Regions from separate parts of the Homo sapiens genome. Here region 1 is linked to region 2. The links come from fine-mapping of genetic effects on gene expression. A gene starts in region 2. The other region holds a variant in brackets. All regions are shown on one strand. Distances are from middle to middle. Region 1 has its middle 21 kb from the start of RXRG. Region 2 holds the start of RXRG (retinoid X receptor gamma).

What was found. PIP is the estimated chance that this variant, and not a neighbour inherited with it, causes the effect.
Region 1: its variant is fine-mapped to the expression of RXRG in tibial nerve (GTEx, PIP 0.97).

What each region holds. Positions count from the first base shown.
Region 1 is chr1:165,458,233-165,474,445 of GRCh38, reverse strand. No RefSeq gene overlaps it. Among named protein-coding and RNA genes, the nearest start is that of RXRG, 21 kb to the right of the region's middle. The variant C/G (reference allele first, on the strand shown) is at 7,953.
Region 2 is chr1:165,436,813-165,453,025 of GRCh38, reverse strand. It overlaps RXRG (retinoid X receptor gamma), which reads left to right and starts at 7,900. Exons shown (of 10, transcript NM_006917.5): 1 at 7,900-8,181. The coding sequence starts at 8,133.

The DNA.
Region 1 (16,213 bases), 21 kb before region 2:
CTATTTAAAATAGTAACCTGCACAGCTCCCCGCCTTCCCCCAGCACACTCCAGCTCCACTACCCTGTGCCTCTTTTCTCACGCAGCACTCATCATCTATGGACCTTTTAATGTACTTGGTCTTTGTTTTCTGTCTCACCTCACTAGAGCATAAGCCACATGAAGGCAGGGCACTTTGTCAGGCCTGTTCATGGATGTACTCTAAGTGCCTGGAGCACTTAGTAGTTGCAGCTAAATATTTGCTTGCTGTTTTTGTCCTTGGCCCCTCCATACTGCTGGATGGAGCAGGTCTACTGTACCTAGGAGTCAACGCGTAGTCTGGGTTAGCAGCCTGGCCTTCATGTAGGATCTCTGAGGTTCTAGGAGTGAACTGACTTGCCTAAATCCTCGAGCTGAAGTTGAAGGCTAGACCTAACAGGGACCTCAGGGGATCTGACTCCAAATGGGTCTTCTGCGTCTCTGAGCATCCCAGGTTAAGAGAGGATTGGAATGGGAGATTGGAGCAGGAAGGAAGGGCTCCTGGGCAGGTAGGGGCTTAGGGACCCCCGTTTGTTCTGAGTGGGGAATTTAGCACACCTGCAGGATGTGCCCAGGGTTAGCTGTCTCTTTTTGAAACTGCCACCTCCACCCCACTAGTTGCATGAGCCTCAGGAGGGCATCTCTGATGTTTCCGTAGCTGAGTGGGATGGGGAGGATTTTGGATGTTAGAGTTGAGCTTGCCAGTGAATGGACTCTGGACTTTGAACTGAGCCTCCAGGAGAGGGAGAGAACCATGGGCAGGAGGTTGGGAGCTCGGGGTCCCCCTCACTCCAGCTGCTAGGCCATTTAGTTTTCATCTGTTCAAAGGGAACAGTTAAGCCTGCACCGTCTCCCTTCTGGCGTTCTGAGGATCAAGTGAAATAATGTATATGAAAATGTTTTCAAAAGAATAAAGAGCTTTGCCAGGATAAACGATTGCTTTTATTCCAAGTGATAAGTCAAGGGTGAGATTTCTAACAAGTATTTGTGTGTGGGCTGTTTTTTTAAAATTCTGTTTTGTTTGTTCAAAAACAAAAAAACCTCATGATCCACCCGCCTCGGCCTCCCAAAATGCTGGGATTATAGGCATGAGCCACCATGCCCGGCCAGCTGGTCCTGCTCTATCAAGAAAGAGTGGAGTGTGATGTGTGGCTTCACAAATCACCCATCTCTCCACAGCTCAGTGTTCTCTCCCACTACTGTGGGGAAGGCCCTTGCCTTCCCAGTACTTAGATGTTCTCAGATGGGGATGTGCTGGGTGGCTGAGTGTCTGGCCATCAGCACAGCCCTTGCATACATGGGATGGGGCCGTGGTTTTGCAAAAGCCAGATCAGTGCTGCTTGGTTGTGAGGGTGAACCACTTGTCCCAGAGCTTCATCGGCACAACTGGGAGGTAGGGGGATGTTGGGCCAATTCCTTAGTTTGTTCAGGACCTGAATGGGGAGCAGTGGAACAAGAGGAGGAAAACGAATATTTGTAGGATTCTTTTCTGTGCCAGGAGCCATCATTCTTTCACCTCACAATAAACCTGCATCTCTCTAAGGTTTATCATCACTGATTTGAAAATTAGAACACTGAGACTCAGAGAGGTTAAATAACCTGTCCCAGGCTTATTAGTCACCAGCAGGAGTGGCACTAAAATGAAGATCTGTCTGGTTTCCAAATCTGTGCCCTTTTCATGGTACTGCATTCCCCTTTGCACAGATTGATGGACTGGGTTCCAGTCTCAGCTCCTTCCCTGACATGCATGACCTTAGGCAAGTCACTTTACTTCTCCCGTCCATTTCCTCAGCTATAAAATGCAATGATAACTTTCTCCCTCAGTGGGTGGTTGTGAGACTCCAGTGAAATAATATATGTGGAATGATCAGAAACATTGAGCTAGATGTTACATGCAAGCAAAGAATTACTATTATAATTTTGAAAGCATTGCTTTCATTCTGTGACTCAGGAACCTTAAGTAAGTCACTTCCTTGCCCAGAATCTGCTGGGTCCTCCCCATCTCTTATGATCTCACTGCCCCTCCTCCAGCTAGCCTTTCTCTGTGCTATTTTTATTTTTTGTTTTTTTTGGGATGGAGTCTCACTCTGTCGCCCAGGCTGGAGTACAATGGCGCGATCTCAGTTCACTGCAACCTCCACCTCCCTGATTCAAGCGATTCTCCCGCCTCAGCCTCCCAAGTAGCTGGGACTAGAGGTGCGTGCCACCACGCCTGGCTAATTTTTGTATTTTTAGTAGAGATGGGGTTTCACCATGTTGGTCAGGCTGGTCTCGAACTCCTGACCTTGTGATCCACCCACCTTGGCCACCCAGAGTGCTGGGATTGCAGGTATGAACGCAGGATTACTGCACCCAGCCTCTCTGTGCTCTTTTAAGTGGCATGTCCTTTACATGACATGTCCACTCTGCCACCTCTCTGCCAATCTGGATCTTTCCCCACCTTTAAAACTTAATGCACACTGGGTCTGCTTCCTTTAGGAAGCCCTATTCTCCAGGCCCACCTGGCTGTGCCACCAGCTGCAAGTCGAAGTGCTGTTCGGTTGTTTCAGAAGCAGGAACATGTCTTTTCAAGGAGGTTTTCAGCTCCTGCAGGGTTGAGATCATGGTTCTGTGCTCTTTGAATTTCTCACCATACTACATGCAGTACTTGAGACCTATGAGCTAAATATTCAGAAAATGTTGATGGATGGACTGATCCAGGGAACTGGATCAATTCCTCTACTTTCTCATGGTTGTACTGGGTCATGGAAAGGTGGGGCAGCTTTTCCAGTCCCTCTCTGTGGTCCTCAGCTGTATTCTGGAAGAGACAGCTTCTTGCCTGAACTCACAGAGTCCCCAGCTTGAGTCTGCACCCCCTCCTCTCTGCCTGGCCTGGCTCTGTCCTTGTGGCGCTGCCCTGCTCAGGGACTCTGACCTTCAGGATCTTCCTTGCCTTGTACCCCTTTCATACTCCATCTCTGAGCTCTTGCTTATGCCCTTGGCTTGTTTTTCAAGAACGCTATTGGTCAGCCATGGGCATGTAGTGGGTGCTCAGTACTTACATTTTACCAAGACTGGATGCTGATCTCAAAGGGTTAGCTGAAGTCTGCACACCCAGATTGCAAAAGCTTCCCAGATGCCTCTTTTTTTTTTTTTTTTTGAGACAGGGTCTCACTCTGACACTCAGGCTGGAGGACAGTGGTGTGATCTCTGCTCACTGCAACCTCTGCCTCCTGGGTTCAAGTGATTCTCCCACCTCAGCCTCCCAAGTGGCTGGGACTACAGGTGCATGCCACTATGTCCAGAAAGTTTTTGTATTTTTTTGGTAGAGACAGGGTGTTGTCTACCAAAACGGTAGAGGCCATGTTGGCCATGCTGGTCTCAAACTTCTGACTTCAAGTGATCCACCTGCCTGAGCCTCCCAAATGCTGGATTACAGGTGTGAGCCACCATGCCCGGCCCCCAGATGCTTTTTAGTATTCAGAATGCAAGCATAGATTCCCCAAGCAAGGGAAGGTAACAAAGAAAGCCTAGCTTTGGTATTGATCACATTGGCTTAAACCATGCCGCCGGGCACATGACCTCATCTCTGAGATCCTTGATTCCTTGACACATAAATTGTGGGTGACGATAACACAGACATTATAGGGCTGTATGAGCATGCCTTTAAATTCCACCCCAAATTGTGTCTTCTCCAGTCCCACTGTTCAGGCCTTAGTTTAAATGCTTTTTACTCAGAAAGCATCTGAGAAATTCCTTCTACCCCCAAGGAAGTCCCTTGTGTTGTCCTGTACCATAATGCCCTGTTATTTTCCTTCTTAGCACTTCTACAATCTATAATTACTATGTATGTCTACCTGTATATTTTGTTTTCCCATTAGAATGTCAGCTCCATGAGAGCAGGGAACACCTCAGTCTTAATCACCACTGTATCCTTACCTTGTAGAATGATGCCTGACACTTAGTCGGTGTTCAATAATTTTTGGTGACATTCCCTTCTCTTTCCTCAGTATATAGCACATTGTCAGCCTGGGTGTCAGGAAGATAAAGGGTCTCCTGTAAACCACTCAGACAGCTCCTGTGAGGACATGAAGGGTGGAGCGTGCACACGTCAAGAAGGAGCTTCTACAACATAAAAACCTTTTCTTCAGAAAGAGGAAGACAGGCAGTGGGGGTGGAGGGTGGAGACAAGTGCTGGTGACCTTTTCATCTGAAGCAGCAGAACAAATGCCGCTCATACCTACTGAGCTGGTTTGGGGGTCTCCTCTGCCTCCGCAGCTGGATGCCTGGAATCCCCAGGCCATGAGGATGAATCTCGGCTGTTTCCACCTGACAGGGAGAGGAGCTGCAGGGGCTGGGGCATTTCTGGAAGACTAGCCTGGTCTCGTCCTCCTTCCTGCCACCCAGCCCTTGCCTTCCCAGTACTTAGGTAGCACCAGGCCTTGCCACTCCTGGAGTCTTTCCAGGTTCAGCACACTGCCACGTGGCCACCAAAGAAGCTACTAGAGCTGCGACCTTTCTCACCCAGTATACTGCACAAGGGAGATGAACATGAGTTTGTGTGTGTGTGTGTGTGTGTGTGTGTGTGTGTGTGTGTACACGGGCGCACATGCAGGACTTTATTTTACACTTGAGAGAGGAAAAATGGGAAAGGACAGAAGAGAAGAGAGACGGGAAAGGCAAAAGCAGAGTGGAGGAGAATGGTGAGGTGACGAGTGTGGAGAGAGAAATGTTAGATGAAGGGACTTTTACAATTTAAATGCGGGAAAGGTTCAAGCTTATAGAGAAGAGCCCGTTGAGAGGGAGAGTTTGAAACTATGGCACAAGAGGAGGCTAATCACTAGAGCAGAGTCTAGGGTAACCAACTGTCCCAGTTTGCCCAGAACTAAGGGTTCTGTGATGTGGGGCATTCGGTGCAGAGGCCGACATGTGGGACTTCTCTGTGGCCAGGCATTTGCACAAGTGTGGCATTGGGGAGAATGGGGTTGGGGTAACTGAAGGGCCACCTTTCCACATATACCTCCTGATGTTTTCCAGGTGTGGAACCAAGAGTTGCTGGCCTCACTGGCACCTCACCCCCACCCCTGGGAAGGTAGCATTCTCCAGGGTCATAGTGTGGCTCTGTATGTGTCACTTGAGTCAGCTGGGCCTCATTTTCCTCATATGTAAAACAAGGACATTGGATTCAATAGGGTCTGAGACATTTTCCAGTCCCTGCTGAGCTTTTGCAAGTCAGTGGCATAAGTTGTGATGATTTTGCTGGCCCTGGCGGAGGTCTGTTAGTAGGAGAATGTCTCAGGAGCCTCCGGTGGAGAAATCTCCAGGGAGGACTGCTTCTGGCTGTCATTGGAGGCCCCCCTATTTTGAGGACCTGGCTTTGGAACAGCCGGACCTTACATGAATGTAAATAGATGAGTGCGTGGGTGAACACTAACGCAGCAGGATCGTCCTCCCTCAAGAAACACTGTTGTCCATGTAGGGGTCTAGGCTAGCCAGGCATGGGCCCAGCAGTGACAAGATATCAATCTGTGTGGGGCTGTGTGGTTTCATCAGCAGCCCCATGTGGCAGGGGCTACAAGAGATGACAGCAGGAAATGGGAGTGTGGGAGGAGGGGGCTGCTGAACTGATCAGATTTCTCAATTATTTCCTTACACTAACCAATTTGGGCTAAGTGAGCACCTGGGGCTCTTCAGTTTTGGGGGAGGAGATCCCAAGAGATGTGAAACTGGCCATCCTTCATTTTGGGCAGGTGGTGACTTGAGTGATTAATGTGCATATGAAAAACAGATATCATTTTATTTATTTTCCAAGCTAATGGAGCAGGTCATGCCAGTCACATTAGTTTTTAAAAAGAAACAAAACAAAAACAAATAATATGTATGGGTCTGTGGTGGTATTCATGTGTGTTGTATGATGGGGGCGGTGGCTGAAATCCCAAATCAATAAGGTAATTGAGTTACTTCCTCCAAGTGTTTAAGGCTATTACTTTAAGTGAACACAGGGCAGTTGACTGTGTTTGCTCGACTGTAATCAGCTTTGGACTCATTGGGCATATTGATCTCTTTCAGTGCTGCTTGGTGTTATTGAAATACCAGCAAAAGTCTTCCCCTCCTCCTCTCCTTTCTCCCCTCCTTCCTTCATTCTCCAGGCTTCCAAAAAGCAAAAATGCACTTCTTTCTATGAGCTAGGCTGTAAGTTTTCTGCTCCACATCATCATCTCTTGTTCTAAAAGCAAAATTCAATTTTCCAAGACTCTTTACGCTTCTACACACACACACACACACACACACGCGCACACATGACCTCTGTGCTCAACAATGTGCTTTTTAATATAGAAAAAAAGCAAAAACAACAGGTCCACTATAGTCCTGCAGTATCCTCCGGCAGGGAAGCCATTCCCAGTCCAGCAAGAGACATTGTCCTCATTGAGGCGGCTATCCAGCTCTGGGCGGCTCACAATCCCAACCTTTGTGGTGACCAAAGAATTGTGGCCTGTCCCCTTCCCTTCAGACTCCACCCTACTGGACCCCAAAGGTCACTGACAGTGATGTCACGGAAAAGCATGTGCTCAGAGAACCTTTCCTCAGAGGAAGCCCTGGAAACTATTGGCGGGTCGCTGAATGCTGGTGGAGTTATCCTCCCTTCCGCCCAACCCCCAGCCCTAAGCCCTGGAGAATGTCTTCAGCTTGGAGAGAGTGCACTGAGGGAAGGAGTCCTTTTGAACTTGAGTGGCCCAACTGGGAGATTCCACTGAGAGGGTGTGGGCAGTCCCCTTCTGCAGTGTCCATGTGTGCCCACCCAGGTGACAATGAGGACTACGCAAGCTGGGCGCTGATCCCCTCTCCAGGCTTTCATCTACTTTAACCCTCTTTTGCACAGCTGGATTTTGCTCCACTTTTTTGCGTTCATTTGCTTTATCCAACCCTCTTTCCCTCCTCCCTTCAGCATGAGCAGTACCTACATATGCACATGTGTGTGTGTGTGCGCACATGAATACACCCCCCAGGGTTCCCCATTAGCCTAGCTCTCTATACGTGTTAGCCCTATCTCAACTCCATGCCAGAAAAATCCAAGCAAAGCCTTGCTGGAGCAGCATCGGCAGTGCAATTAGCTAGAGCCTACATATGTCCCTTGCCTGTCAAAGATAGCTTCTACCTAAAGGCTTAGGGGGCATGGAACTCTTGGGGTATTGTAGAGATGATCTTAAAGAAAACAAAATTTACATTAAAATTGCATTGACTGAAGACTTCCTATGTACCAGGACCTGTCCTAGGTATTTCATATATATTTCCAACAATAGTCTCAACTACTCCAGGAAGGAGGTGTCACTACTGCATTTTAGTGCTAAAGAAGACGAAGCACAGCAGTGAGGCCAAATGCATATGAACAGGTTTGAAACCAGGCCCTTTAACTCCAGATCTAAGACTCTCTATACTACCTTGCAGTTCAGAAACTGCAATAGGTAACTAGGATCATTTACATTTTCTAGAAGGGGAAGTGTGTGCAAATGTGTGTGTATGTATATGGGGGTGGGGTAGACAGTTTAAGGAATTTGGAGCCCAGGTAATGGGTGAAACAGCAATATTGTTATGTTTTCCTTTAGTGCCTTCCTCTCTGATACATGTCTATTCTTCTGGGGATCAGGGTCTTTCAGCTGAACTCTGCCCAAGGCTCCACAGTGGCTCCTACCACCCCACTATTCTACTGCCACCAGAGAAAAGATTTGGCTTCCTCTCTGACCCCTCACTCCTTTCCACCCTCTCTTCTGCTGGCTCCTCTCTGCTTCCCTCCCCACTCCACTGTGCATTACTTACTGTGCCTCAAACATCCATGTTCTTTAAGACTCAATCCTTTGTATTGGCTGTACCCTTTGCCTGCCATATCTCCTCCTTGCCACCCTTTTTGGTGACCTCCTACTATCTTTTGAATCTCAACTTTCGACACTTTCTCTTAAC[C/G]CCCATCCCCCTTGTGTCCCCATGACACTTTGCATATCCATTTATGCATTCCAAGTCTGATGATCAGAGCTGTGTTTGAGAAAGTTCATTGTATTGGTAGGTAGAGGTTGTTAGAGAAGAGGCTAAAGGCTGGGAGAACACTAAGAGTTTGTTGCACTCATTTCAGGGAAAGATGAATTAAAGCAGGGGATGCAAAGAAGGGGCCTGCCTGGGATGGGGAGAGTTCCTGGAGCTTGAGAGTACCAGGCATGGAGCTGATTTTGATTCTAGGGTCAGATTAAGAGAGGCTACCACCTGCCCAAAGTGGGTTTCGGGGAAGTTTTGCCTCACTGCAGGAGACTTTTCTAGAAGACTTTTAGAAGACCCTTTCAACCCTTTAACCGATTTTGTTATAGCTGTGGCATTCTTCGGGTTGCTCAGAAGGCAGAAGCTCTAAAAATAGAAAGCATTATTATTACCGATTAAATTTCTTTCCACCTACGGAATTTTCTGAAAGTAACAAGAAGAGGAAGCCTGAGTCTCTGCTTAAGTGTTCGGGGAGCAGAGATGTATTGAGAGGTGATGAAAGAAGAAGGAGGGTGTGGAGAAAGGGAGGCTAGGCAGGTAAGATGGGGTTAGGGTAAGAAAACACTGATTGAACCCACTGATGAGTAAAGGGACCTTTCAGCAGGCACTGACTTTTCAAGAGAGATGCACTGCATATTAAAACAATAGAGTCCCCCTGAGGCCCACCGTCTCAGCTGTAGCAGGTCCAGGCTGCCAGATGGAATGGGGTTTGTCCCTGTCTCTGCATGGGTGCAATGCGGGAATGCTCTCCCTAACTCTGACAAGTGTGCAGCCTCCAATGCCTTCACTCTCTGCTTCCTGAAGCATTTCATAAAAACCCATCTGCAAGGCTGCCTACAGCCTTGCAGTTTCTGAGGAGAGCACCCATAGTGACTAAGGACGTATAAGATCACATTAAGAGATGATTCAGAAAATATCCAATTTTACATATGTACTTATTAATTTTTTTGAAAAAGAGGAGCCTTCAAATTGATGGCATCAGGTCCTACAAACTTGGATTTAACCTTGTGGCTCTATTAGAATATTTTAGAATGATTTTAATGCCCCTTTCTTTTCTTTTCTTTTTTTAAAGATAGAGTCTCGCTCTGTCGCCCAGGCTGGTGTGGAGTGTGGCGTGATCTTGGCTCACTGCAACTTCCACCCGCTGGGTTCCAGTGATTCTCCTGTCTCAGCCTCCCAAGTAACTGGGATTACAGGCGCCTGCCACCATACCTGGCTAATTTTTGTATTTTTAGTAGAGACAGGGTTTCACCATGTTAGTCAGGTTGGTCTCGACCTCCTGAACTCAGGTGATTCACCCACCTTGGCCTCCCAAAATGCTGGGATTACAGACATGAGCCACCACATCTGGCCTAATGCCTCTTTCACATGACACAAAAAAGTCCAAGTTACTTTCCCTGTGTTTCCTGTATCTTCTCTTCTTCCATACAGCTTAGTTCATTGTCCTGGGTGCCCTCCCCAGTCATCCTTGCAGAAGTGTTTTCAACAGCATGAAATATATCAGGACACAGGCTTGAAACTGGGTTCTGCTAAGAACTGACTTGGGCTACTTGCTTCTAAAATTAAATTATTCCAAATTGCTATTGTTCATAGGTAAAAAAAAAATGGTTGAATAACAGCATTTTCACATGGTTCAACATAATAATTCCTCTGTTTTCTCTTCTACAAAATGGAGATAATAAAGCCTGTCTCACCTGATGGTGGTGAGGATGGAATGAGATAATCTATGTAAAGTGTTTTGCACACTTCCTGGCATTTGGTCAATGCTCAATAAATGTTAGCATTTATTAGTAGTATTAGTATTAATAGTTGTTGTTCCCAAAAGTGGCATTCTCTTTTCCCAAGCTAAAATCAAGTTGTCTCTCTAATAGTTAAGGAGGGGAAAAGCTACGGGGAATCATCACTGAACAGAATTGCCAACACATTCATTGTTGTCCTTAGGCTCCTCCTTAAGCTGCAATTTGTATTCTTTATAATGGTAATAATAGCTAACACTCATCTTATGCTTTGTTCTACATGCTTAACACAAATGAGCTCATTTAAGCCACATCAGACCCCTCAAGGATGGGTATAATTATTTTCCTCACTTGCCTGAGGTCACATAGCTAGTAAGTGACAGTCCAGATAAGGCCGAGTGTTGCAAAGTCTATAATTTTGACCACTAAGTCATATGACCTTCACCCAGCTCTCCTTGCTGCAGAGTCTCTAGTTTAGACCACTTAAAATGATTGGCTCCTCTTGAGCCTGTGGCCAACTACAGCCCTTTAGGCCTATGCTCTGTAACACCTGGAGGGGTGCTCACGGGAGGGAGCTCCTGGAGGTTGCTCCTTACTCTACGGCTTTTCTGTTCAAACAACCTTTCCCTCAGAGAGCTCTGTAGCTGAGTCCCTTGGCCCAGAACTTCTGTTTATTTACATTTGCATATTCTTCACTCACTATTTAGTTAATTAGAGTAATATATGCACAGAGACATAAGTACCTGAGCCATATAGAACAATATAAAACAAGAGTTAAAATGTCGCTTTCCCCCCGTCACCTGTCTCTAGGTTTAACCTTTTCTGTTTCTAGCTCTTCTGGTGGTTATGTCCAAACTTTAATTGCCTAAATGCTTATATTGCTTTTTCTTGGTTTTTCGACTTTAAACAGTGTTTATTGATTTTTTTACTGTAGAGGAGGAAGAATTTATAACTTGTTTATAGTAGCCTCCTAATTTTCCTTTTGCTTTATTTTTGTTGCCTATGTGATTTTAAATAATATATTTAATTTATATTTTGAAAGACTATCTTTCTCGATATCTCAACTTCAGACAGTATTTCCTAATTCTGCACTATGAAATAAGAAATTCACCCTTTCTCCACAACCTGTTAGCTGTTCTGTCACTTTTACATTGTTTAGGTTGAAAATATTTAAATTCTGTTCTGTAATTACCATTAAGTCTTTGTGTTTTGTTTATATGTTGATTTTATAAGTTGGAAATCAATCAGTATTTACATTATGATTATGTAATTAGTATTCTCTTCAGAACCAAGTAGTGCAATTAGACACAGAGAGAGGATGAATTCTATGTTGTTAAATCTCTTTTATTCGAGAGGGGGATGCTCTCAGAATCAATGTCAGATGTGTTCTGTTTTCATACATTCTACTCATGCTCAGAATTCTGTTATATTTCCATTTTTGTATATTTAGACCATGATTCCATGATTTTCTTTTTAGCTCTTTGTTAATTTTCCTGGTATTCTTAACTGTTTTTCTTTCTTCTTGCTTACAAAATAATGTTATTATTTCACCTTATCATTGAGGTCATCTAGCTTCTTATTCCAGTTACTTGCTATAGGAAATTTTCTTGACTCTTGAAGACATTTTTCTCAAACAGCTCTGTTCTCTTTTCTAATTTTCTTGGTTACTTTCTAGGCGGCCCTCCAGAGAATTGCTACTATAGGATATCAATTCATTTCCCTCTGGTTTACTTCCACTTTTTTTGGATCCCAAGTTCTCCTCTTAGATGTCTGTTTCGCTTGGTTAGAGTATGCTTTCAAATGATCTTTACACAAGGGTGCATTAGAGGTTAACTTTCTGGGTCTTTGCATTTCTATAAACTCATCTACTCCCATCTCCTTAATTGGTTTGGCTAGAATTCTAGATTTAAGATGATTTTTTCTTTGATCATTGACTTCTAGCATATAGTTTTAGTAATGATGGTCTGATACTTGTTGCTTTGTAGGTGATGAACTTAATTTTTTCCTCTCTTAGAAACTTTTCGGATATTTTTTATCCTTGGTGTTTCTAAACTTTACCAGGGGATATATTTAAATGTGGACCCAGTTCGTAATTTTTTTTTTGTAAGCTCTAGGCATTTGCTTGTTCTTCTTTCTTTTTTAAATTATTTTCTCCCTTCCATTTACTCTGCACTCATTTTCTGGAACTCTCATTGAATGGATAGTTCATCTACGGCATTGATTCTCTATGTTGCTTAACTTTTCTCTAATATTTTCCGTCCCTATGTCCTTTTAATCTGTGGGTCTGGAGGATTTTCTTGAATTTGTCGTCTAGTTGTTCTATTGATCTTTTTCTTTAGCAACTCCATCTTTAATGTGCAATAACTCTGGTTTGCTCTTTGAATGTTTTATTTTTACAGCACCAATTTTTGTTTTATGGATGTAATATTTCTTTGAATCTCTGAGCACACTAGTTAGAAATATTTTAAAAGTTCACTTCTATTTGGTTTCCCCTGTGGTCAGTGTTTTATTTGTTAATCTACATTTATTTGTGATGGTGATTTTTCTCAAATATCTAGTGATCCTTAGAAGTCTATTTATATTTTTTGAATGAAAGAGTAAGTTGATTAATTTCTGAAGCCAGCACAAATTTCCTTTATGGGTATATAGTCCTGTTTTCTTACGAGACTTCTTTACTAAATAGAAGACAATTAAGGTCACAAAGTTTCTGCCCTAATGCTATTTATAGTATTAGGAGTACACACAACAAGATATGTTATGTTATATATATAACAGAATCAGTAAATATAAAACTCTGATAAAATTACAAAGAGAAATAACAAGGCTTTGTGAGGGAGTATAGCAGACTTGGGATAACTTTTCTGAGGAGGTGACATTTATACTGAGGTTTAAGGTGGCTTGGAGTTGCCCGGAAGAGTGGGTGTAAGAGCCTTCTAATCAGAGAGCATAGCATGTTCAAAGGCTCTAGAATAGGAGAGAGGATGGTGTGTTCTAGGCACTGAAAGGAGGCTTGTGTGGCTATGATGCAGTGATCAGGGCAAGAGTATATGAGGTTAGAGTTGAGAAAAAATAGCCAGGGGCTGGGTCATGGGAACCTCGAAGATTAAGTTACAGGAAGAGAATTTATTTCTCAGTGCAATGATAAATCATTAAAGGACTTTAAGCATGGGAGTAATATGATCAAATTTGTGATTTATAAATACCGTTTTGGTTATTTTGTGGCTAATGGAATGGAGGTCTTAGCAGCAGAAACAGGGAAAGAAGTTAGGAAGTTTTTACAGAAGTCTAGGCAAAAGAAGATGATAGGATAAAGTGAATACATCAGAGATAGAGAAAAGTCACAGCATCAAATGAGAAATAAGGAGTTAGGGGGAAGTGGATTCATGAATGACTCTTAGATTTCCGGCCTGAGTAACCTGGTTGGGTCGAGATACCATCTGGGAATAGCAGACCCTGGAAAAACCAGGTTTGGAGGGAACATCGTGAGTTTAGTTGGGTAAGGTTAGGTGTGAGAAGATTATGAGATATCCAAGTGTGAATGTCTAGTGGGCCCCTTGACACTTGGATCTGAAGAGACTTGTGCCAGGAAGGCCAAGTGAGCCTGCTTCAGGAAAGGAAGGGAATAGTCAGTTGTGTTGAGTGATGTCACGCTTGCAAATAAACATAGATAAGATTTATTCAAGTTTGAAGCAAAGGGATTTTTTTATAACCTTGGAAAGAGTGGTCCTATTAGAGTGAAGGATGTAGAGGCCAGGCTGTGTGGGTTGAGAAGGAAGTAGAAGGTGGGCATGAGGGTTGCTTAAACAACCCCTTCAAGGGTAGCTGGGAAGGGGAAGAGAGGGCAGCTATGAAAGAACAGTGTCACATAACACAGATTTCCATATCAAAATTATTCATTAGGCTGTGCACTCCGGAGAGCAGGAACCATTTCTTCAACTTCTTTCATCCTCTGGACCAGCACAGTACCTGGCAAATGGTAGTTCATTAAACCATATTTATAGAACCTATCGGAAAATACAAATCCTTAACAAAAAGGACCATTCTACTGCTCCACAGCATGTAGAGCTGGCTCAATGCTTACCACCCCCTGCTGTTGTTAAGATTGATGACAGGTCCAGATAACTGCAGACTGTTGACAGCCATGGCTTGTGTAAGTTATCCCTATCAGCCTGACCCCTTGGGGGTTAAGCTGCCGAAGATTCTGCTTGGGAAAAATCAAAAGGATCCAGTGGATGTCTTGGTTAACTCCACGGACTGGTTTTAGGGTTGAACTGTCCTCTCAAAATAAGAATAGCTGTAGACCTTCCTTATATTTATTGAGCACCTACTATGTATTGATCATGGTGTCATGTATTTTTGTACGTTTTTCAATCTGATTTTCATAGCTATCATCCATATTTCATAGATGAGAGCATGAAAGCTCAGAGAGGATAAGTATATTTCTGATATGGTTTGGCTATGTCCCTACCCAGATCTCATCTTGAATTGTAATTCCTGGTGGAAGGTAATTGAACCCTAGGGGTGGGTCTTTCCTGTGCTGTTCTCGTGATAGTGAATAAGTCTTGTGAGATCTGATGGCTTTAAAAATGGGAGTTTCCCTGCACAGGCCCTCTCTTTGCCTGCTGCCATCCATCTAAGATGTGACTTGCTCCTCCTTGCCTTCCACCATGATTGTGAGGCCTTCCTAGCCACTTGGAACTGTAAGTCCATTAAACCTCTTTATTTTGTAAATTGCCCAGTCTCAGGTATGTCTTTATCAGCAGCATGAAAATGGACTAATACAATTTCCTATGTGTTGTAAATAGCTGAGTCAGGATTTGAACCCAGGTCTTCTAATTTCACTGGGCATACACTTTATAAAGGTCAGAAAATTAGCAGGATAGAGGAGGACCAAGACAGGCCGTAATAATCCAAAAATATTGATGGTATGTCTTTTCGGTGACTTCTGAGGGACTTGAAAAGCAGGTAATTAAATGATCAGGGGTGGGAGGGAGTATAGAAGAGAGGAGGAGGAGGAGGGGCAACTGAAGAGTTTGAGTCATTGATGGGATGAGATGTCTCATGTAATTCAGGTGAGTGGGCCTCTGAGGGGCTGTATCCAGGGATGCTCATAAAATGTTGGTTTTCTGGTCCAGGCTTTTTTATTTTTAATGCATTTTGTTGTGTATATTTAAGGCACAGAACACGATGTTATAGGATACATAGAGATAGTAAAATGTTTCTATAGTAAAACAAATTACTATATTCATCATCTCACATAGTAACCCATTTTTTTGTGGCCAGATCAGCTAAAATCTACTTATTTAGCATGAGTCCTATATGCAGTACAATTTTATTACCTACAGTCCTCATGTTGCACACTAGATCTCTAGGTGTGTCATCCTATATATCTGTTGCATCTCCCCCATCTGCCCTACTTGCACCCCACCTCTGGTAACCACTGTTTTGTTATCTCTGTATATGTGAATTTTTTTTTTAGATTCCACATATAAGTGAGGTCATGTAATATTTTTCTTTCTCTGTCTGGCTTATTTCACTTAGCATAATGTCTTCCAGAGGCATTCATGTTGTGGCAAAAGGCAAGAGCTCATTCTTTTTTAGGGATGAATAGTATTCCATTCTATATATGTACTAGAGTTTTTTATCCATTTTTCTATCAAAGGACACTTAAGTTGTTTCCATATCTTGGCTATTGTGAATATGTTATTGTGAATATGGCTTGGCTTCAGTGAACATGAGGGTGCAGACCTCTTTATGAGGCAATGATTTCATTTCCTTTGGGTATATTTCTGGAAGAGGAATTGTTAGGCCACGTGGTAGTTCTATTTTTAATTTCTTTAGAAAGTTCCATAATGTTTTTCATAATGGCTGTACCAATCTACATTCCCACGAGTAGTACACAGAAATTCCCTTTCTCCACACCCTTGCTAACATTTGTTGTCTTTGGACTTTTTGATAATATTTGGCTTCAATCTCATGGCTTTTTCAGGGAGATGAGGATTCCAGGCTATTTTTGTTTGTTTGTTTGATTATTTGTCAGCTGCTCACTATATGAAATAGAATGTATGGAGGAAATGGGCTGTGACTTGTGATATACCAATGGCAAAAATAAACAAGTCAAAAGATTAAAGAACATTTTTGTTTAAGATTTTAAAATATTTTGATTATTTTTCTCATTGTAAATGTAATACATGGTCATAGAGAATTTGTTAAAATATTGAATACTGTAAAATAAAATAAAAATCACTTCAAGATTGTGTGGTCTAAAGTTCAACATTGTTCAAATTCTGTTATATTTCTTTCCAGACTAAAGAATGTTTTTGAAAAATCTAAAGCTACTTGAAACTTAGATAAAATATTGAAAGGAATGATGGGCAGTTCTCTTTTTTATCTGCAGGCACATTTGATCTTACACTAATGAAGGAAAAGAAGAGTCTAGTTTTTCTTTAAAAATTCATA
Region 2 (16,213 bases):
AAGTGGTGGGGGCCTTTGAGTTGTGCTGAGGTTAATGGTGAGGCTCCTGACGTCCCTGTCTGCCCCACCCTGCTCAGCTGCCAGCAATGATAATCTGCCTCCTGCAGTCACTGGGTGGTATATTTAGAGCCTCTCCCCAAGAGTAAGTGGGATCTGAAAATAGACTGCTTTGCCTGTGTGTGATTGGGTTGCAGCCTCCAAATCTACACCTGAATACATGAATACATGTAGCCAGTAGCCATTACACAGTGGTTCTTAATACATGTCCGTTCAACAAAATCCAAGTGGCAATGACTTGGTCTCAGAGGCTGGGCTGTATTTTTAAATTGCCTCATCTCTCTCTCAGGGACTTGAACAGATTTTCCTGAGCTCTAATGCTGACATCTACTTCTTTGGCTGGGGTTCCTTGGATCTGGACCCAGTCTAGATTAGAGAGTCCCATATTTGCACTGCTGTCTCCTCTCTAGAGGGGACCAGATGTTTTCCCCTGGTCTCAGCCCTATTCTCTCAGTGTGGTCACAGTTGTTCTGTATTCTGAGAGCTCCCATGTGCACTGCAGCTGTGGTGGAGTTGTTTATGACAGGAAAGGTTTTGTGATCATCATTTGGCTGGGAACCAAGAGATGGAGGCATCTATGCAATGGTTCCTTCTACCTTGAAAATTTTGTAACTGGTGTTACCTAGTTTGGAGTTAAGGGTAATTATGTTACCCTTAACTCATAGCTTATAGCTCCATAAGAGCAGAGATAGCGTCTGCCCTGTTCATTGTTGTAATCTCAGCATTCATGCAATAAGCATTTATTAGGCACTTACTGTGTACAAAGCAAAATGCCACATTCTTTGACAATATAAAGATGAATAAAAGATTGTCCCTGAACTCAAAAGAAGATTCCAGTTTAACAATTAGTTTTGATACTAAGGGAAATTAAATTCATGCTGTAATAAAGAAGTAAGAATTTTGAGAGAAAGTGGAAGTATTAACTACTTGTAAGGGAAGACTTGATAGAGGGACTGGCCTTTAATGAGCAAGATTTTGATAGCAGAGGCAGTGTTGTGGGAGCATGCTATGCTGAGGACACAGTGCCAGGAAACCTCAAGTCAGTATATTCTACGTCTACACAGCAGATGGCCATAGCCACCATATCTCCCGCTAAGCAAGAGCTTCTTGGACTCATAAGCCCCAATTGTGTGTACTAGCAGATGGGTAAAGTGGATCTTATTAGTTCCCTGGAATTATCCAGGGAAACAGTTTCTCATTTTCTGCTGTTGGGCTTTTCTTAGCTTGTTATGAGAATGTTCTCTTGCTGCAAGTCAATGGTTCACAAACTCATCTGCACATTAGAATCACTGGGGTTCTTTTGGTAGTTCCAAAACCCAGACCACAATCCCACATTAATTGAATAATCTCTGGAGGTGAACATGGGTATGAGTAATTTTTTAAGCTTCCTGGATGATTTCAACTTGCAGATAAATTTGGGAATCGTTTCCTTAAGGCAAACTCAGTCAGTTGGTTTCACCAGTGACTTGATCAATTAGCTATGATGCAAACTTATTGTTGGTTCCTAAGCCGTGTGTGACACATTTTAGATTTAATTTGTGTTTTTGGACAGGCCTTTTGGAAATGGTCCTGTTTTGGATCATAGACGAAACTGTTCTAATTTAAAGCTAATCATCAATCTTTCTGATTTAGGTGCCTCATTTCCATCGTCAGTGGGTCTTAGTCATCAAGACTGATGTACCGCACTAGCGCCAGCATTGAACCTGTCCACATAGGAGTCTGCTTCCAGGAAAAAGGAGCTCATGAAAATGAAAATTGGGCTGTTAAAAACTATTGGAACATAGGAATGGGAACACTCATTTCCTTATGCCCAGTGACCTGGAGTTGACATCAGGATATCTCAGCATAATCAACAAACTTTTATTCATTCATTCATCATGTATTTACTGGGTTTCTACTATGAGTTAGGTTCTGGCGTTAAAGGCTTTTGGAGCTACAAAAATGACTTGGATTCAGTTGCTAGTCATCTAGTAAGAGGGTTTTTCAGGTGCAGTCATGATAATCATATAAGAAGGAACATATTGAGAGACACGAGAGTGGTGAGTTACTGGGGAGTGTCATAGAAAAATGGCGAGTCATTGATCTGACCAGCAAGTGAAGGTGAGGCAAAGCCAGGAAGGATGGTTTTCTGGCAGCACAGAGCCCAAAGTTGACATGGGCATGTCAAGCAAAAAATCATAGGTGAGACAATGAAACAGCGGAACTCACTGCAGGCGGGGCAGGGGATAAGAATGTTCAGAGCTCCCATGTTAGATGGCCAGACCATGGTTAGACCTCCCATGTTAGATGGTTCAGATCTCCCATGTTAGATGGCCCGACTGTGTCAGATGGCTCATGTTAGATGGCCAGACCACCTCACATGGGAGATCTGAACATTCTTACCCCCCAGCTTCTCGGATGCACTGACTTCAGTCCCTCCTCAGGGCTGTTAGACCTATTGTTCTCTCTTTCTGGTCCACCCTCTCCTCATCCTCCTGCTTTCTTCCCCAGATTGGATCCTACTCAGCCTTTAGATCTGAGTGTAACTGCCATTTTCTCAAAGAAGTCTGCTCTGACCTCCCAATTTAAATGAGATTTCCCTGCTATAGTCTTTCATCTCATCCAATTATTTTCCTTCATAGTTCTTATCATGGTTTATGCTGGTATATATTTGTCTACGAATATTTGTTTAATATTCATCTCCTCTATTGGGATGCATAAGGGACTATATCTATCTTTCCCCTTAGTATATTCCTGCTGGTTGTCAGATAATAAGCTCTCAGTAAGTGCTAGCTGAATGATAAGTGAATAAGTGATTAACAGCAACGAGAAAAAAAAAAAAAACTATGTATAGAGAAACCCCATCCGCAGTAACACAAACATAGATAGGAAACATATCACTAATGAGAGAAGGATTGTGATTTCACGAAAGACACATTTACTAGACAGCAGAGTTGGGGACCTGGCTTTTACACCCATTTCTTTCACTACCTAGTTGTGAGACCAGATCCAAAACCCAATTTGTTAGAGTAACTGTCTTTCATTCTCTGATTTCATAGTCTTAATCTCAAATTGCCCATTTGTAAAACTGGGGTAACAAAGCCTGCCCTATTTAAGTCTAGTATTGGGGATAGCACATGGAAACTTAATGTACTATTATGTAGGTAAGGTATTATAAAAATATAAAAATATTAATACATAATATTAGTATGGAGATATTTGCATCTAAATTCTATAGCTAAAGTTTATTGGCCATTGTCAAATGAATGAGTTTGGTTTTTCATTTGTATTTGCTGCAAAATACTATTTTATATCACCACGGGTCAAAAGAGAAAAAAAGAGCAGACGTAAAGCTATATCCTTTGATTACCAGGGTGAATATTAGATATTATTGGCCGAATTTGTGTCAAACAGCCAAACATACTAGTCAAAATCCATGCTCTTTCCACTTATTCAAAGGCACTAATGGCTTTAGTAAAAGTAGAACATATTATTTAAGAGGACTAGTTAACTAGCCTTGACAAGAAGTAGGCCAAGAATTCTTGTGAATGAATTAGCTAATTCCTACTGTAGACTTTGAGCATTTGGTCTTTCACTTGACATCCTAATGAGAATTCAGTAACAGCTGGAGACACAGTTGTGACTGAAGTCAGTGGAGCTGTTTGGGAAGGGCTTATGTTAGAAATACCAGCCACTTAGGATAACGTTGTTATACCAATAATGGTCTTAGGGAAGACACAATGGTGCCAAGAAAAAAAAAAGTGGGTTAAAAAGAAAAAACCACATTCATATTTGTTGATCTTTAGGCAGAGCTTATGGTTTGTTATGGGGTATTAAGCCATATGGAAGGTATCATAAGAAAAGCATACTGGGGTACCGTTTGGTATATTGTTTTTGATGTATTTGACTATGTCAAGCATTTTTGATACAGAAATATTTGTTGAGCACCTACTGTGTGTTTTAGCACTTAGGTGAGAAAACAAAGAGACATAATACATTATCACTATATTTGAAGAGTTAACAATCATGTTATGAAGATAAGACATATTCAAAGGAAAGATAAATAACCATTCCTTGCCATTTCACTGGGGATGCCACAAGGCCATACATACTAAGTGTCACCTGAACACACTGGACAATAAGTTTTATCAGACCTAGGTTAGGGAGACATCTTTTTGGATAAGTGTTTTCATGGTGGGAAATGAGCTGGAACTTGAATGATAGGTAAGAATTTTAGTGATGAGAAAAAGTAAATGGGCATGAACAATGAACTACGTGTTAGTCCTTTTAGTGTTGTTATAAAGAAATACCTGAGGCTGGGTAATTTATAGAGAGAAAAGGTTTAATTGGCTGACAGTTCTGCAAGCTGTTAAAAAAAAGCATGGTGTCAGTGTCTGTTCAGCTCCTGGTGAAGCCCATGAGGCTTTCAATCATGGTGGAAGGCAAAGGGAGAGCTGGTGTGTCACATGGTGAGAGAGGGGTCAAGAGAGTGGAGGGGGAGGTCCCAAACTCTTAAACAACCAGATCCCCTGAGAGCTAACTGAGCAAGAACTCACGCATCACCAAAAGGATGGCACTAAGACATTCATGAGGGATCCACCCCATGATCCAATACCTCCCACTAGGCTCCACCTCCACCATTAGGGATCACATTTCAACATGAGATTTGGAGAGGAAAAACATCCAAACTATATCAAACCGGAAGTTGGAATGAACATACCGTACCCCTACAGTGGGCAAAACAGCCAGATCAGAAGGAACTCTCAGAGAAAGGGAGGAAAGAAAATCAGGAAAATATTAATTCTTTGCATTTGTTTTACAAAGCCATTGTATAGAACTTCGCAGTGTAAAAATGAGCACGTGCCCAACTCTCAACACATCTGATCCACAAAATCAAAACTAAATCCAGAAACCTTAGTGAGGCTGGCAGCATGGATGTTTTTCCCAGAGAGTGTGTATCCCAAGCCTTGTGATTACTGCCCCAAAGCACTTTCCTCTACATAGAGCTCACATGATAGGCCGAGACACCCCACAAATGGTGAGCCTTTTCCATGCCAGGTTAGGATTTGGTTTTTCTTCTGTGAGGAAAAGAAATAGACAATGTACTGAACTTAGAAAAAGGTGAAGAAAGAGTCTATCTGTTGGTGGCTTAACCAACAGATCATCTTGACAATGACCTTGGACAAGTCTGTAGACTGTGATTTTTAAAGAATGGTTTTTGAGTACTTGAGTACTTGGAAAAACCCTTGAAACATGGGTTCACACACACACAAAAAAACAGTTTAAGTAACTCATTTCCTTCTCTGACATGCGTACAATAGAAAACTGTAGATTGTAAGACACTTGCTTCAGATACCACTATGGAGAAAATGGACAATTATGGAATGGGTGATGCATTAGTCTGCGTTCAGTTTTAAAGCTGAAGATGATATTGGAACCCATGTAGCTCTGCTCCATCATTTTACAAATGAGAAAAAGGAGAGGAGCCATAAAGTGACTTGCTTAAGGTTACATCCTCTTCCTCTTTGACCTCCTCCTCCTCCCCATCATTTGCCTCAAATTAGATTACATGTATCGAGCATTTAGTATTTATCTGGCGTATTTCAAGTGCTTAACATGTATTGACTCATTTAATCCTCATGGTAACCCTATAAGGTAACTGAGGCTCAGGGAGATTTACTCATTTGCCAGTATCATGAGGCTGTAAGCAGCGGAACAGGGATTTGTACCCAGCAATGTTGGCTTGTGAGTTGGTGAGTTGGTGCTTTTACTATACATATAGCCTTTCAAGGCCATATAACTAGTGAGTAGCAGAGCAAAGTGTCTAAGGCACTAATGAATGGACTTTTTAGTGATATAAGATGTTGTCTTTGCTATGTCTATGTCAACATTTTTATCAATGAGTCGAATAAGATATGAAAAAGCAGTTCATCAGATTTTCAGAAGTCATGAAATAAGGGTATGAATAAGAAATATTTTGGACAACAGAAGCAGGATCCTAAAAGATTTGGGATGATGAATGAAGCCAAAAAGTTTTAACTTCAGAGGAATATAGGAAGCATTTCATGTAGGTCCCAAAACCAATTGCCCAAGGATGGGATGAAGAATATGCATAAGAGAACACAACTTAGGGGAGGTAGGGGTGGGGAGATTTTTATCGAGTTAGTTCTACATGAATTAACATGCAGAGCTGCCCACCTAATGCAAGTGAGCAAATGGTCCTCCTGTATTCTATATTACTTATGTCCACTGGACTCTCATCCCAGCAACAGTCAAGGCAGCTCTGGGCTCTCCAAAGCTCTTTACAGTGAAGGCCTGGATATTTCTTCCTCCTTTGTGACATGCTTTTGCTTTGATTCCCCATTTTGGCCTCCTCCTTTGTCATCATGACTTTGTTCCTGACTCTGGTCTTTTATTCTACGTTTTTGTTTTGGCTTCTCCTAGCATTTGAATCTTGATTTTTTACTCTGGGACCCTGATTTGACTTACCTCTCTGGCTCTCTATGTCTTATGCTGCATCAGGAGAAAATCTCTTATCTTTTTTCCAGCCCAACAGAGCTCAGCCCATGAAACGGACCTTCAATGGGTATGTTGACAGCACCCCATCACCGTGCCAACACATATACCATGAGGAAAAGGTTTGGACCATATCTGGAGTATTGCATCCAAGTCTGGCCAACCCCCTTCCTCACTGTGAGGGTATCTATGTAAACTGAAGTACATTATTAGAAAAAGGATAGGTTGGGAATAGACATGAACCCTTGGTGATACATAGAATTACTGAAAGAGCCAGAGATGCCTAGGGAAAGGGGGATTATGGGCACAGCAGATCAATCTCAGGATTTGCAGAGGATCCCACTGTGAAAGACTTTTTTGTCTTTCAGGCTTCTCTTGTGTGGCCCCTGGGAGCAGTCTAGCACCTGTGGGCAGAAGCTGTAGGGAAAAGGAGCAGATTTTATCTCTATAAGAAACTTTCTTGTGGTGAAAACTATCTAGAAATGGAATGAGAAAGTGGTGAGCTCCCCATTATTGGAGGTGTTCAAGTATAGGCTGAGCGGTGACTTGTCACGAAAACTGTATGACAGACCCAAACATCAACGGGGTGCTTAGATTCTTTGATCTCGGGTCAGTTCCACACAAGACAGGCTCTGTGTTAGTGAGGACCCAGTGGTGTTTTTGAACAGGCGGCAGGATAACAATGGTATATAAAATAAATGCAGAGAAAGACCTCCACATCAAGCCAACCCCTCCTCCCTACCTGTAAGTTTTCCACCTGAGTGAGCTCTGGCTCCAGCTGCACTTGTCAAACTCCCATTGTTAGAGCACAGATAAATGCTTCCGGCCACCCAAGCAGGAGAGGCCCACCTCAACTTAAGGGCTACTCTATTTTAGTTTTCCGTAGCTGGAGATTGAGTATCACGCTTTTCTAATCTTGTGCTTCTGAAAGGGCCCTGTTCTCTCTTGAACCCCACCCCCTCCTCCTTTCACAGATCAAATACCAAGTACATTGGACAGATAGAAGTTCGAATGAGAAAATGCATTTTAATAAAATCCCATTGATTTTTGTGGATGTAAGTCAAGGAACAGGCACCTAAAGAGTCTTCCATCCCCTGCCGTCTCCCGCCTCTCTCCTGACCTACACCGGGCGGTCATACATCGATTGGCTTCCTAGATAATAGATCGTGCCACCCGGTAGGGACCTCTGGGGACGCGCCGGGAGCTGGAAGAGTCGCACGCAGCAGCCCAACCCTGAGTTAATCAAACTAGCAACAGGATCTCAAGCAGCAGCGACGGCGGTGGCAAGAGTAGCGGTGACGGCGGCGGCGGCGGCGGCGGCAGCATTATGCGTGATTACTGACAGGCACCAGCTGCTGCCGCCACAGCCGTCTCAAACGCACTATGTGGACTCTCCGATCTAGAGGCAGATTCCTGACTAATCCCAGAGGGCTGGCCCAGCCTGTGCTCCCCGGGCTGCTAGGAAGCGATGACCACTCTTGTTAGCCCAAGTTGAAGAAAGCCGGGCTGTGCCTGGGAGCCGAGAGAGGCGGTAATATTTAGAAGCTGCACAGGAGAGGAACATGAACTGACGAGTAAACATGTATGGAAATTATTCTCACTTCATGAAGTTTCCCGCAGGCTATGGAGGTAAGTATCTCCCTTGGGCTTCACTGCGTGGACCTGTATGAGAGACTGAGAAGAAATTGGGAAATACGAATGACTGGATTAGTATTGAATTAAAAGGAGAACATATATGTTTATATGCATATATAGTGTGTATATAGCGTTTCAGCGTGTGTGTGCACGCGTGCATGAGAGAGGAGAGGAGGAAAGAATGGTCTGTAGGTGAGGATACGTTTGCATATCAGAATGAGGATACGGGGATATTCTAAGGAGAGAGTAAACCAACATGCTTGAGAATGTGTCTGAGACAAAGATAGAATAAGAGCATTGTTATAACCCAGTGTGTTTGTGCGGGTGTGAAAAGTGGAAGAGTTAACGGGGAATTACTATGATGTTCCTATTAGCCAACTTGTAATGAGAAAAAATGTGATTAAAAAGGTTTTGCCTATCTTGAGGGTTCCTGGGATACTTTGTAACAAGGGCATGATTGTTTTACTCAAAAGCAGATTTCCCTTTAATTGGATTTTTAAAAAGAAAACATAGTGCTTTAATTTGCTACTGTGTTTTCCTTCCCCTGTTTTCTTTCCTTTGATTTGCTAATAGCCTCTTCTCTCCTCCCCTGCTGCTGCCCCCAATTCTACTGCAAGAGTTGCTGCAATCACTTCCACTCTGGGGGTAGAGATCTGGGGATGGGGGGTTGGGGCTCTTAGAGAATTGGCAAACTGAAGATTCAAGTCACCGTGCCAGGCAGGGCAGCCCAGTCACACTTCACAGAAGCTTCCGGAGACTAGGTCCTCAGGCTGCCTTAACGCCCAAGCACATCCGTCCCAAGGATCCCTTGATTTAGTGACAGAAACAGTACAGCCGCCCAGCTCTGAGTAAATGGAAGCAACAGCTGACCAACTGGCCTGTCGCTTGTCAGTTGGAGGCATGCAGCTTATGTTGCTGGGAGCCAAAGAAAGATTCTGGCAGGCAAGACAGCAGAAATTCTTATAAGGTTTTGAAAATTGAAAAGTCCCTGCTCTCCAGACTTCCTCCGTGGACCAATTCATCTGAAGGCTTGGGACTAAAGCTTGCCTAACTTGGCTGGGCAGAACCCCCTGGGAGGCATGGTGACACACTGCAAGGTAGAAGTGATCTCTGTCACCAGGAGGTGTTAGACCTGGGAGTTTGCACATTCATTCAGGGTAGTTTTTATGAGGCAGGCATGGTGTTGGGCACTGGGAATACAAATATGAATGAGACACAGTCTCTGCCCTTTGGGACTGGGGCAGGCTTGTTACACAGGCACATTATAATACTGCATGATGTGTGTAATAGCAAACGTAGGTTGTACTTGGACTTGGGGTGAGGGCCATGGAAATGTTCCCGAGGTGATGTTCAAGTTCTTTGGGCCAGTCTGATGACAGAGTGAGAGCGGTGGCCAATGCTGTGACCTGGGCATTTGATCTCTAGTCTATGGTTGGGCTCCAGATGTGAAAAGCCTCCTCAATTCCCACCTCAGTCCCATTCAGAGCTGAGAATTGCTTTTTCCTTTACATCTTAGTTCATTTGTAAGAGGTGCATGCTCATTTTCAGCCAGATTCGTGGGCCCCCCAAGGTCTGTGAGACTGTGGCTTCATTAATGCCAAAGAGACCCTTGGAGACAGTTGGGGTGAATAAAAGGGTTGAAGCTAGAAGGATTTAGGGAGAGAACTAAAGTAAGAGCCAGAGAAAGAAGATCTAGTTAAAATTCCATGGGGGCTGGAATCTTGGAATGTTAGCATCCTAAGGACCTGAAACAGCATCTTAGGCTCTCATCTTATAGATGTGTAAACTGAGGCTCAAAAGAAGGCAGGGACTAGTCCAAATTTATATGGGGCTGAGCTGCAGAACACTTCCAGAAAAGCCCTTACTCAAATTTATAATATTGTTGCTTTAATATAGTGAAAAGAGCACCAGGAGGAAGAGGAGGCAGGAAGAGGTAGTGTGCTGAGTTTGGTTCCCAATTTTTCACCTAGTAGCTGTGTGACCTTAGGCAAGCTAGTGAACCTCTCTGAGCCTTAGCACCTTTCTCTCTAAAATGGGATTTATAATCTCATCCTTAGAGTATTGTGAAAATTAAATGAGTTAGCATGTGAAAAACAGCTGCTATAGTGTTGTCCATATATTTGCTACCTAATACAATATTTTCTTCCCCTCTATTTTACTCAGAGACTAACATGCAAAATAGTTAAAAATCAGACATTATTGTAAAATAATAAATAAGGAATCTGGGAAAATAAAATTAAATCCACAAAGACCCTCATATTTTGCTGGCATAGATTTTCATAATTGTGGGGGCTCTGATATTTAGCGTAATTAGATTTCAGATAGAAGTAAACACAATGGTTCAGCTATGGAAGGAAATAGTTCAGTATAGTATAGGGAACTTGAGGGGAAAGGGTCATGTAGGTTGTCTACATGTCTCCTGTAAAGCTACTTTTCTTTGTCATTCTTGAGGGAGGAGAAGAATTATTTTGTTTAGTTCTGTTGAGGTTTTCCATTTTGTTGGCATGTGCCAGTTAAGAGGAGGCCTAAATGCTGAGCCAAAGGACTCTGCCCCCGTCTGCAGGGAGGTCTGTTTGAGAACTTTCTGTGATGAGGGAGAGGGACAGAGGACTCACAAGCAGGCACAGGGGAAAGCAGGATTAGAGTGGACGTCACCTTTGGCCTCTAACCTCCCCTGCCACAGTGCAGCAAGTTGCACGGCACTTATTAAAATACTTGGTGTATAACCCCCTGCCCTGTTACATATTAGCACATGGAATTACAGAGGGCCCCATGATTTGTATAAGAATCTCCAGGGAAGCAAAGTCACCTTTTGGAAATAACACCTGAGATTTGTGTCTGGGACCATGCTTACCAGATGTCAGAGCATCATCTGATCAGTGAGCAACAGATTGCTCAAACTGGCCAAAGTGTGGTGGCTACGTGGTGGCTCCACAAAGGTGCCCAATCTCCCAGCTTTGGGCCCTACCATGTAATGATGAGAGAAACCTTCTCTTCTCCTTCTCTGCCAAGTCCAGGGTTTGCCAGCTGCTCAGTAATAGGTTTGTTTTTCTGGGATGAGACAGTTGCTGCCTCTTAGAAGATGGCAAAACAAAGCCTGTAATCCCCCCCATCCAATTGTGCAGTAATCCTCAGGGTGAGAAGGAGATCAGGGAGAGAGAGGACTTCTCTCATTTCATTTAACAAACACACTGTAACACTAATGCTCGCTACTATTGTAAGCACTTTACCAGCCTCGGCTCATGTAATCCTCATAACAACCCTAGGAGTAGGTACTGTTACCATTGTTCTCGTACTCCTTTTAGAGACAAAGAAACAGAGGAATTGAGAGGTGAAATAACTTGCTTAAGGTCTTATAGCTAGAAAATGGCACAGCCAGGGATTGAACCCAGGCAGACTAGCTCCCAGAGTTCACACTGCTGAGCTGCCTCTCACAGCTTCTGTGAGTGACACAGTTGCTCTGCAAAGCCAGGGGCAGCAGCACACCCCCAGGGAGCTCCCGGTGCTCCAATACAACCTCAGATATGCAGCCTCAGCACTGACTGGTTGTTGCAGACCCAGTGGACTGGCCATTGAGGAATAAGCCATGGGATAGGTTAAGAGCAACGGTGATCTCTGCAGAATTAATTGGTGGCTTCCCTTGGGTACATACTTATTTGCAAGAGTCCTGTCCAACTGACCCTGACCATTCATGTAGAATAGTTGCTTTCACTTGAAAATAGCCATAGAGAAGGGGTTGAGTTGGACCTGCTTGTATGTGTGCGTGTGCACATGTGTGTATATGCTAGAACATATTTTTCCCCTCCACAGATATGTGGGTGGCTAATTGGAACCTATCATGGGCATAAGTGGTTAAGGTTTATGTGGAAAGGAGTAACTGTTTATGAGATTTAGGAAGGAACATATTTCGTATAAACTATTTTCTAAAACATTTACAATCTCACCAAGAGATAGAGAGCTGAATAGCAACTGGGGGAAGAAATTGTGCAAAGAGAATCTAAATGCCCCACCTCTTCCTTCCCCTCATTATGAAGCTTCTAGGTCTGCAGAGAACTTAGCCACCAGCATTGGATCGCGGGTGTGCCAGGGGCTCCCAGAGGAAGCTGGTGTTTTCTCCTCTTTTTAAAAGTAGAAGACACAGAGGCCCAGGGAATGAAGTTAATTTTCTAGAATGCATGGGCTTTGGTGGCTCTCATGAGATTGACTCAGCCCTGGCTCAGTGATCCTCAGAAAAAAGTGAAAATACAGGTTGAGTATCCCTAATCCAAGCATCTAAAATCTGAAATGCTTCAAAATCCAGAACTTTTTGAATGCCAAAATGATGCTCAAAGGAAATGCTCGTTGGAGCATTTTGGATTTCAGATTTCTGGATTATAGATGCTCAATTGGTAAGTATAATGCAAATATTCCAAAATAAAAAAAAATCCTAAATCCAAAACACTTCTGGTGCTAAGCATTTTGGATAAGAGATACTTAACCTGTATCAACTCGTTTCATAACTAAAACACCACTTTAAGGTCGGTAGTTTTATTACCCCCATTATACAGATGTAAAAACTGGGGGACAGAGAAATTAATAATTTGCCAAAGGGAACTTGGCTAATAAATGATAAAAGTGGCATTTGAATATGAGGAAAAGCAGCAGATCTGGATTTTAATCCCAGCTCTACCATGTACTATACTGTACTACTCTGTAAATTCTTACAGCAGTTACCCAGCACAGACCTTCCTGCCCCTTCCCAATTCAATACTTGGCCTCTCCCAGGATTTTGACCCTGGCCTTTCTCACTAGAACACTCCACATCTTGACTCTATCTCTTCACAATTCAACCCCTAGTTTGGGTTCCCTTCCTCAGGGCTCCCAGCCCAGCCTAATCTTCTTCTCCCTCCTCTTTCCACATAACAGCCACTCAGACACCAGGGATTAGCTAATATGCATTTCTTATATTTGAATTATTATCAGCATATTCAAGGGGACTTTCCTATAAACATTTAGGCTGCACAATCACCCTGAGATGGAATGGGAAGGTATTTTATAACTGTTTTACTGGTGCAAAGCTTTACATTTTAACCGATGTAGAAAACAAGATGTTAGACATTAAATTTCCAGTGAATGGGGAGCAGAGAGAAGCTTTCTTCTGATGGGAAGGAAACCTTCTCTGCTATGGAAGCCCTTTCTGGCTTCCTCAGTGGGGAAAAATCAAGGAATGTGTTGGAGAGTGGAGAGCATGTAGAAGAGGCCCTCCTTCTGCCCCCAGAGGCTCAGGCCTCTCAGCCTCTCAGTGGGAATGTGAGAATGAAAGCATGCATTAGCTGATGGGTTGACGCTGCTGCATGCTTCACGCAACCCCAGTTCGGACCAGCTGGCTAGCCTTTCGAAGCCGCACAGGGCAGTTCCACCTGGATTCATGTAGCCCCCAGAGAAGGGCTGATGAGCTGCTCAGGGTGGGAGCTGGGGTTGCTTCCGGTGCTTGAAGGAAGGGGGAGGGAGAGAGTGGCATCCCTGCCTCTCTCCCTCTCCTCCACCCCCCTCCTCCCCTCGCTCCCACTCCTCCCATCTTCCTCCACCCCCGCCCCCCTCCCCTAAAATCTGTAATGATGGAGGTAGTGAAAAGCAGGGAAAGATTGATAATCAGCCTCATTATTACCAGCATTATATATAATTATAGCAAAACCTCACTCATTTGGATCAATTGAGAGAAAAATCAGTCTAAATTCGTGACAAGTTGGCAGATTACTTTTAAATTACAATTTTATTACTTCTAAGTAACACATGTGAACAGTTTGTGTTTCAAGTACCACAAGCTAATGGTTACTCAGTGGGGATTTTAGAAAACCTGCTTTAAAAGATTCTTTTGTAATTAACACCCCGTTAATATGCCAATGTGCTCCTTCTATGCTTTTTAAATTGCTTGAAAACATATGTATCTTAAATAGGCTTAACATTTCTACCATCTTATTTGCTTAACAAACCTTTTTTATTATTATTTTGTGAATGAACAAATACAAACTAGTTTATACCATGACCAGTTTAGTCACCACTCTGAATTAATTATGTTGTAAATTAATAAGACCATGTTGGTTGTTTTTGTTTAGAAATCAGACTTTTAGAACTTGAAGAACCACCTCATTTTATAGAAGAGAGGTTGAGAGACTTGCCCAAGGCCATATAGGCAAAAACAGCAGGTCTTCTGGCCCCTGGGTCCAAGTTTATTCCGTCTGCTAGATAATGCCTTACATTCCTAAAACTCTTTATGAATATGTGCTATTTATTTCCATACCAATCATTGGGTTATCTGTCAAAAAATATTTGGTGAGTGTCTATTCTGTGCCAAGCCGTGTGCTTAATCCCCATATAATGGGGATAATAAAACTACGGACCTTAAAGTGGTGTTGTAGTTATGAAATGAGTTGATGCAAGTTAAGTATCCCTTATCCAAAATGCTTAACACCAGAAGTGTTTTGGATTTGGGATTTTTTTTTTATTTTGGAATATTTGCCTTATACTTACCAATTGAGCATCTATAATCCAAAAATCTGAAATCCAAAATGCTCCAATTAGCATTTCCTTTGAGCATGATATTGGCATTCAAAAAGTTCTGGATTTTGAAGCATTTCAGATTTTAGAGGCTTGGATTAGGGATACTCAACCTGTATTTTCACTTTTTTTCTGAGGATCGCTGAGCCAGGGCTGAGTCAATCTCAGCACAACAGATAGAGGGGCCCCTCCTGGAGGCCACCGTCTATTTCATTCAAACTTCAAACTGACAGTGTAGTCCGTAAGGCGGAAATTATTCCCATTAGACAGATTAGGAAACTGAGGTTTAGAGTGATAAAGTGGCCCTTTTAAGGCCTGCTGCAAATTATTATAGATCTAGAATTTGAGTCTAGTCTAGCAGAATTTCTGTGAACATTTCTGCATATAATGAATGACATTTTGCTTGCACACCACCTTTCCCAGCCAGCACCAAATTATAGACCTTGCTAGTACAGATGGATATTATGCCATCTCTAACAAATGAGAGGCTCCAGGGGATCCTGCTAACGAGGACCGGCTGGCTGTCCCTTTAAGCCAATTCCGTATACTGGTACATCATGTACCAGTTAGTCCATGGAGGCAGATGTCAATGAGTGTTTGAAGCAGATGCCAATGAGGGTGCCCCCAGTTCTCCTCTCGTTCCTAAAGTCCTTGAACATCAATTATGTGCACACCCAGCTCTTGAATCCATGACCTCTGTCCATTACTGTCTCTGGATTTCTTGTTCAGATAGGCTCTCTCTATCTGAACAGGGCAATCTCTATAGATTGTCTTCTAAAGACGGCAGTCTCTTAAAATACAGCGAACTATATTCCTAGTCCCATGTTACCATTGGGTAATATTCAGAACATTATCTGTTCTCAGGTTCTAAATCCCTGAATTCTTTGAATCCATTCACTTAAACTCAGCCCTAAGAAAAATGTGCAGAAATAATTAATCTCCAAATATTTTGAAGACATCAGAGCTTGTAACTAGTTTGTACATTCTGCCAGGGCAGGGAATGGGCTTCATGCTCTTGGTGTCTTACACAGCCCATATACAAGCAGATGCTTAGCCAGGCGTGCTGGCTGACTGACTGACTGGCATTCTTCTTGGTCTAGGGTGTTCTTCCCCTGCTCTCCAACTTCTGCTCTCCACATCGCTAGGGCTGTGAAAACAGATACTGTGAGCCCTGAACCCTCCAGGAGGCTGCTTCCCCATGACACTAGTGACCAGTAAAATGAAAAGGAGGAGCAAAGGAGATTTTGAGTCACAGAAATGAAACCCAGGCAACCAGCCTAGAAGAAACACTCCAAGATATTCATTAAGTGCTTTGTTTCCCGTTCCTCTGACATCTTGTAAATGCTTTTTGAATTAAAGATGATAACAGGCTTTTCCACTTTTCAAGTTTGGTTGTTAATTCTGAAATCCCACCAGGAGTTTGGGATTGATCTTTAACCTTGAAACTCTTGCTGTCCCCCACTTCTGTCCCCATCTGGTTACAGTAGCT